Homo sapiens: one gene and its partner. The protein of the gene in region 2 interacts with the protein of the main gene of each other region in a biochemical or structural test. Each region holds a gene or a part of one and is shown on either strand. Other genes may lie near its edges.

Region 1 (3,500 bases), on a different chromosome or scaffold from region 2:
AAAAACAGTTTCCTAATCTACACCTGCAATCTACACTTCTGAGCTTGTCACTGTAGTCTCTTAGTTGGTGACTCCACTGTCTTACTTGGTTAGCTTGGCTGGATACTCCTCCTCCTCTACATTTTTCTCAAATCTATTTCAATCAATTTCTGACTCTTCTACTGCTATTCTGGTTCATGAACCCCCCCCATTACTCCCACCACTAACCCATCTCTTGCTTGAGTAACAGCTTTTTTATTGAGACCTCTGATCCTGTTCCTTTGAAATCCATCTTCCTCTGAAGCAACCAGTGCCATGTAGTTTTTGTTTTTCCTTTCTGGTTGCACCTTTTTAAAAGATTAACTGTTCAAAAGCTTTATTCCTGCCACTCCCTGTAAGTTAGCGGACTTTCATTTCAGGCCATCTTGAGTGAACACACTCAACTCTACTCTCATGACTTCAAATATCAAAACTATGGATTAATGACCCCAAATCCGTATCTCCACCCAAAGGGTGTATCCAAAGGCCTTACATACATTTTTTTTTTTTTGAGACAGAGTCTCACTCTGTTGCCCAGGGTGGAGTAGAGTGGCACAATCTCAGCTCACAGCAACCTCCACCTCCCAGGTTCAAGCTATTCTCCTGCCTCTGCCTCCCAAGTAGCTGGGATTACGGGCATCCACGACCACGCCCAGCTAATTTTTGTATTTTTAGTAGAGACAGGGCTTTGCCATGTTGGCCAGGCTGGTCTCAAACTCCTGACCTCAGGTGATCTGCCTGCCTCAGCCTCACGAAGTGCTGGGATTACAGACGTGAGCCACCATGCCTGGTCACATTACATACATCTGAATGTTGACTTCAGCAGCTTGAAATCAACGTCTTTAATTTTATGTCCTCCATTCCTTATTCAGTTCGATCAGTACATTATCTATTGCCTGTATCAGCAGGGGAGGCGGGGGTGGTCCAATCTTTTGGCTTCCCTAGTCCACACTGGACAAAAAGAATTGTCTTGGACCACAAGTAAAATATACTAACACTAGCAACAGCTGATGAGCTTTAAAACAAATTAAAAAATAAAAAAAAAAAATAAATCGCAAAAGAATCTCATAATGTTTTAGAAAATTCACAAATCTGTGTTGAGCCTCATTCATAGCCATCCTAAGCCACATGCAGCCCACAGGTTGCACAGCTTGGCTTATCTTTTTTTTTTTTTTTTTTTTTTTGAGACGGAGTCTCGCTCTGTCGCCCAGGCTGGAGTGCAGTGGCATGATCTCGGCTCACTGCAAGCTCCACCTCCCAGATTCACACCATTCTCCTGCCTCAGCCTCCCGAGTAGCTGGGACTACAGGCACCCGCCACCACACCCGGCTAATTTTTTGTATTGTTAGTAGAGACAGGGGTTCACTGTGTTAGCCAGGATGGTCTCAATCTCCTGACCTGGTGATCCACTCGCCTCGGCCTCCCAAAGTGCTGGGATTACAGGTGTAAGCCACCGCACCCGGCCTATCATTATTTGAGACAGGGTCTCACTCTGTCACCCAGGCTGAAGCGCAGTAGCATGATCTCAGGTAACTGCAACCTCTACCTCCCGAGCTCAAGCAATCCTCCCACTTTGGCCTCCTAAGTAGCTGGGACTATAGGCGGGTGCCACCAAGCCAGGCTAATTTTTGTGTTTTTTGTAGAGACAGTGCTTCACCATGCTGCTCGGGCTGGTCTTAAACTGGGTTCAAGCAATATACCCGCCTTGGCTTCTCCCAGTGCTGGGATTACAGGCGTGAGCCACAGTGTCTGGCCTATTGCCTATATGATTGATACCACTTCCTAATCTATCTTCCGGTCTCCAAATTTTTTTGTTTTCAAATCCATTATCTAAAAAGCCAGTGACTCATCAAAAATACAAACTTGACTGTATCACTCCTCTGCTGAAAATGATGGTTCATCATTGAAAGGAGGACATCCAAGTTCTTTAATACATATGTGAGCTTCCTTTGTTCATGTGTAACAAATTACTTCCTGACTCAAAGTTTTGTTATTCCCCTTCAACTTAAAATTAATTTTGCTTTCCTGCATACATCAAGGGCTTTCTTTTTGTAGGTGAGCAGGGGAACCAGATGGGAAGACAAAAATATTTCATAATGAAGATTCTAGGCCGGGCATGGTGGCTCACGCCTGTAATCCCAGCACTTTGGAAGGCCAAGGCGGATAGATCACTTGATGTCAGGAGTCCAAGACCAGCCTGGCCAACATGGCGAAACCCTGTCTCTACTAAAAATACAAAAAATTAGTTGGGTGTGGTGGCATGCACCTGTAATTCCAGCTACTTGAGAGGCTGAGGCACAAGAATTGCATGCATCTGGGAGATGGAGGTCTCAGTGAGCCAAGATTGTGCCACTGCACTCCAGCCTGGGTGACACAGTGAGACTCTGTCTCAAAAAAAAAAAAAAAAAGGAATGAAGATTCTAAAATCTTACTCATAGGGAAATATCCAGTAGGAATCAGAAATATGGCATGAGGGCTCAGGCAAAAGGTCTAGGTTAGTAACTCAGAGCTGTACATTACAGACACAAAACTGCATATTCATGAATAATGCATTGAAAACAGTGTAATTCCCAGGATATCCATGTTATCATACATCTGTACCATATAATTATATAATATTACAAAACCATCATCCACTTCTGGATGAGTTAAAGATTCAATATGAATCTTCACTAATTCTTCCAACTTTGAACAGAGAAACAGAAAAAACTCAAAACTAACTCCATGTTTCTGGCTGCCTAGATTAGAATTAGTGATTTGGTAATTTACAATCATTGCAACAGCTACAGCCTTTTCATTAACGACTATAGTCTACCCCCTAAAGAAACCTTCCCTGTAAATGACCACTAGCTATCCTGATTTCTATTTGGAGAAGTAATATTTTACTCTGTACAAAGGTTTGAGAAATATTACCCCATTCTAAGATCTTTCAGAATCTGTATTAGTCAACTTTGAACAAGAAATTTCTGATAAAACTGTACAAAAAGAGGAGGTCGTCATATATACCAGACTAGTTAACACATAACCTATCCTAACTGAACATAAAGATCTAGCTGCAAACAAGACATTTTTACCTCAAGATAGTTTAGAAAAATTAATATGTATGAGAAATGCTCATCCTGAAACATCTAAAACAAGGATTCTTAGAATAAATTAAACTGTTCAACAGAAGTAATAAGCAAAATTACTCCATAAAGCCAAAAACATACCTGGTTTCTCAGACATACAGGACACACACTTATTGTCTTCTGCATTATTAGAAACACAGCATACTGAACACTCCCAAGATCCAATGGGCCTTTTGAATTTATCTCCAAATCCTAAGGTACCAGTGGTTACAGTGCAGCTGGAAGATGAAGCAGTCATAGTCTCAGCACTTTCCGAAACCACTGTCAATGTAAGGGCTCGCTTCACACAAGTTCCAGGTTTCGGTGTTTCACAGGCTACACATTTTATTGCTTCAGGTTTATTTTGCACTAAAC
Region 2 (3,500 bases):
AAGCAAGGAAAATGACTAACGTGCATTTATTTTATATTGTGGAAAAAAAGAAATAGTGCAAGTAAAATAAGAGAAGTGAGAGAGATAGAAAGAAAAAGAGAATAAACTTTTTTTTTTTCATAAGGCAGTAGATGAGTGTTAAAAGGAGACTGGGGGTTAAAAACAAACTAGTGGACCAGATAGTAAAATGTTCAATAAGAAAGCAGGTGCTAAAAGTAATTTTTTTAATGACAAAGTTTACATGCTAACATTAAAATTGAAAATTCACAGTGAATATATAATACTTAGGAATACTTATGCACCAAATAACATAGGAACCACCTTTGTAATGCCAAAAGGTATGGAGACATTGAAGCACAGTAATAATAGGAGATTTAATACATGGCAAGTCTCAGTACAAGGCAAATCCAGTGGTACAATAAAGAGACCTATACCGAAAATGTAAACAACACAATAAGATACATTGTGTGTGTGTATACACACATAGGCATACATACACACACATAAATCTACACCTTGGAGATAAAGAATATACCACCTTGTCAAAAGCTGATGGCACGTTAACAAAACGTGATCATAATTACCTCACAGTGAAGGCCTCGCTAATTTCCATAAAGTAGAAATATTACAACCAACCCTCTGCAATCACGATGCAACAAAAGTAGAACTTACTAACACAAACTGAAAGCACAAAGGCTCTTCTACCTGGAAAAAATGTTCAGTCTTCTATTAAGCAAATGTCGAGATAAAGACGAGATACCAACTGAAGTTACAGAAATATTTAAGAAGAGTGATTATAAGAGCTTACATATGAGACTCTGTAGAAGATAGTTAAAGCAGTGATTGGAAGCAGATTCAGAGCGCTAAATACTCTCATCAATGAAAATGAACGAATAAAATTAGACAAATTAAAGCACTGCCTCAAAAATCTAATAAAAGAACAACCCGGGAAACCAAAAGAAACACAAATAAAGAAATAACATAAAAGCAGAAATTGCCGGGCTTGGTGGCTCACACCTGTAATCCAACCACTTTGAGAGGCTGAGGCGGGAGGATCACTTGAGGCCAGGCGTTTGAGACCAGCCTGGGCAACATAAGGAGACCCTGCCTCTACAGTAATAATAATAATAATAATGATTCTTTAGCAGGGCGTGATGGAACATGCCTGTAGTCCTACTTACTGAGGAGGCGGAGGTGGGAAGATTGCTTGAGCCCAGGAGCTCAAGGCTGCAGTGAGCTGTGATCACAACGCTGCACTCCAGACTGAGTGATCCAGGGAGATTCGGTCATTAAAATGAATGAATGAATGAATGAATGAATGAATACATAAGCAGATGTTAATAAGATACATAGTAGAAAAACAATGTGTGTATATTTATTAAATCAAAATCCTGGTTTTTTTTTTAATGGACAAACTCACTAGGCAGATTAATGAAGGAAGAAAGGGAGAGAGCACAAATATACAAAATAATAAACGACAAATGATAATCATTTAAACAGAAAAAATTAGGTTGCTTTTCAAACCTGTGTATAAAGAAATTAAAAATACACATGAAATAAATAATTTCCTAGGAAAATACAGATTATCAAGATTTTTACTCTAATGCTGGAAGGCTTAACTTGGCCAATTTTTACAGAAAAAAATGGAAAAAGTTATTAAGGAATAACTCCCAAGAAGCACCTGGCTCAGATGCTATTACAGGTCAATTCTACTAAACCTTCAAAGATCAGATAGTACCAGAGTGCCAATGCTCTATAAATTATTCAACAGCATTATAAAGGAAATTTTCATAACTTCCTTTATGAAGCAAGTGTGACATGGATAGATAAGTGTAGATGCAAAAATGCTAGATAAAATATTAGCAAACAACATATTTAAAAAATCATAATATACTTTGGCAAAGTGGGATTTATCCCATCAATACAGATTGGCTCAATATTAGAAAGTACCTTGATATCATCCACCATATTAATATACTTAAAGACAAATATCATATGGTTATCACCACAGATGTTGAAAAAGCCTTTGGAAAAATTCAACACCTCTTTATGTTAAAAAATAGAAAAGCCTTAAGAAAATAGGCACCACAGGATGCTTTCTTAACATGATAAAACATATATACCTAAGTCCTAATGCTAGTAACTTATTTAATGGGGTGGGGGGGCACTCGAAGCTTTCCCTTGGGATCAGGAACAAGGAAAGCATGCCTACTACCTCACACCTATTCAATCTTGCATTACAAGTATTAGTCAACTGAGCAGAGAAATAGATCATTTTCCTAGGAATGAATAAGAAGAACTAAAAAGCACAGCAAAGGGAACAATCAACAAAATGAAATGGCAACTTACACATTGAGAGCAAATACTTGCAAAACATATGTATGAATAAGGGGTTAGCATCCAAATTTTGTAAGGAAATCATACAACTCCATAGCAGAAAAACAATCAAATTTAAACAACGGGCAAAGGACCTGAATAGACATTTCTCCAAAGAAGACATACACACTGACTAACAGGTGTATGAAAAAGTGCTCAACATCATTAATCATCAGGAAAATGCAGATAAAAGCTACTATGAGGCAACACCATACAACCATTAGGATAGCTATTATCAAAAAGCCAAGAGATGGCAAACATTGCCGAGTGTGTGGAGAAAAGGGAACCCTTGTACACTGTTGATGGGAATGTAGATAGGGACAATCATTATGGAAAACAGTATGGAGGTACCTAAAGAAATAGATTTTTTTTTTCTGTTTTAGTAAATAAAATGGTAGTTCTACATTTTTCTATTTTAGAAAAAAATATGGTAGTGAAAAAGAGAACTATCATATGACCCAGCAACTGCTTTTCTGGGTATCTACTTAAAGGAAATAAAATAACCACCTTTTGAAAGTAGCTGATCTTTGAAAAGTATCTGAACTCCCATGTTCACTGCAGCATTAATCACAATAGCCAAGATATGGAAACAACCTAGGTGTCCATCAAGGGACAGATGGATACAGAAAATGTGTTGTATGTATACACTTTAAAAAGGAGATCTTGCCATTTGCCAAAACATGGATGAATCTGGAGGACATTATGCTATAACAATGAAATAATAGTGAAATAATCCAGATACAGAAAGAGAAATATTGCATGATCTCACTTATATGTGGAATCTTAAAAAAATAAAAGTAAAACAAAACTCAAATATACAGAGATACAGAATAAAGCAGTGGTTATCAGGGTCGGGGTGGGGAGGAGGGGATGGGAGGAGGAAAGCGGGAGATGTAGGTCAGAGGATGCAAAGTAGCAGATATGTAGGATGAAAGAGACTAGAGATCTAGTGCACAACATGCTGGAATACAGTTTGTACAATTGTACTATTAAATATGATGCGGGATTTCTGCTAAATGAATAGATTTTAGCGCCTACTGCTACCAAAACCAAAAATGGGTCACTATGTGACATAATGGGTTATGTTAATTTGTTCCACTATAGTAACTATTTTACTATCCATA

Evidence for each region.
Region 1: the proteins of NXF2 (region 2) and NUP153 form a complex in vitro, tested with the Homo sapiens proteins (one study listed by BioGRID).

What each region holds. Positions count from the first base shown.
Region 1 is NC_000006.12:17,633,926-17,637,425, forward strand, and holds part of NUP153 (nuclear pore complex protein Nup153), read right to left. Parts: coding exon 3,228-3,500; intron 1-3,227. UniProt on the Homo sapiens protein: Component of the nuclear pore complex (NPC), a complex required for the trafficking across the nuclear envelope. Functions as a scaffolding element in the nuclear phase of the NPC essential for normal nucleocytoplasmic transport of proteins and mRNAs.
Region 2 is NC_000023.11:102,253,667-102,257,166, reverse strand, and holds part of NXF2 (nuclear RNA export factor 2), read right to left. Parts: intron 1-3,500. UniProt on the Homo sapiens protein: Involved in the export of mRNA from the nucleus to the cytoplasm.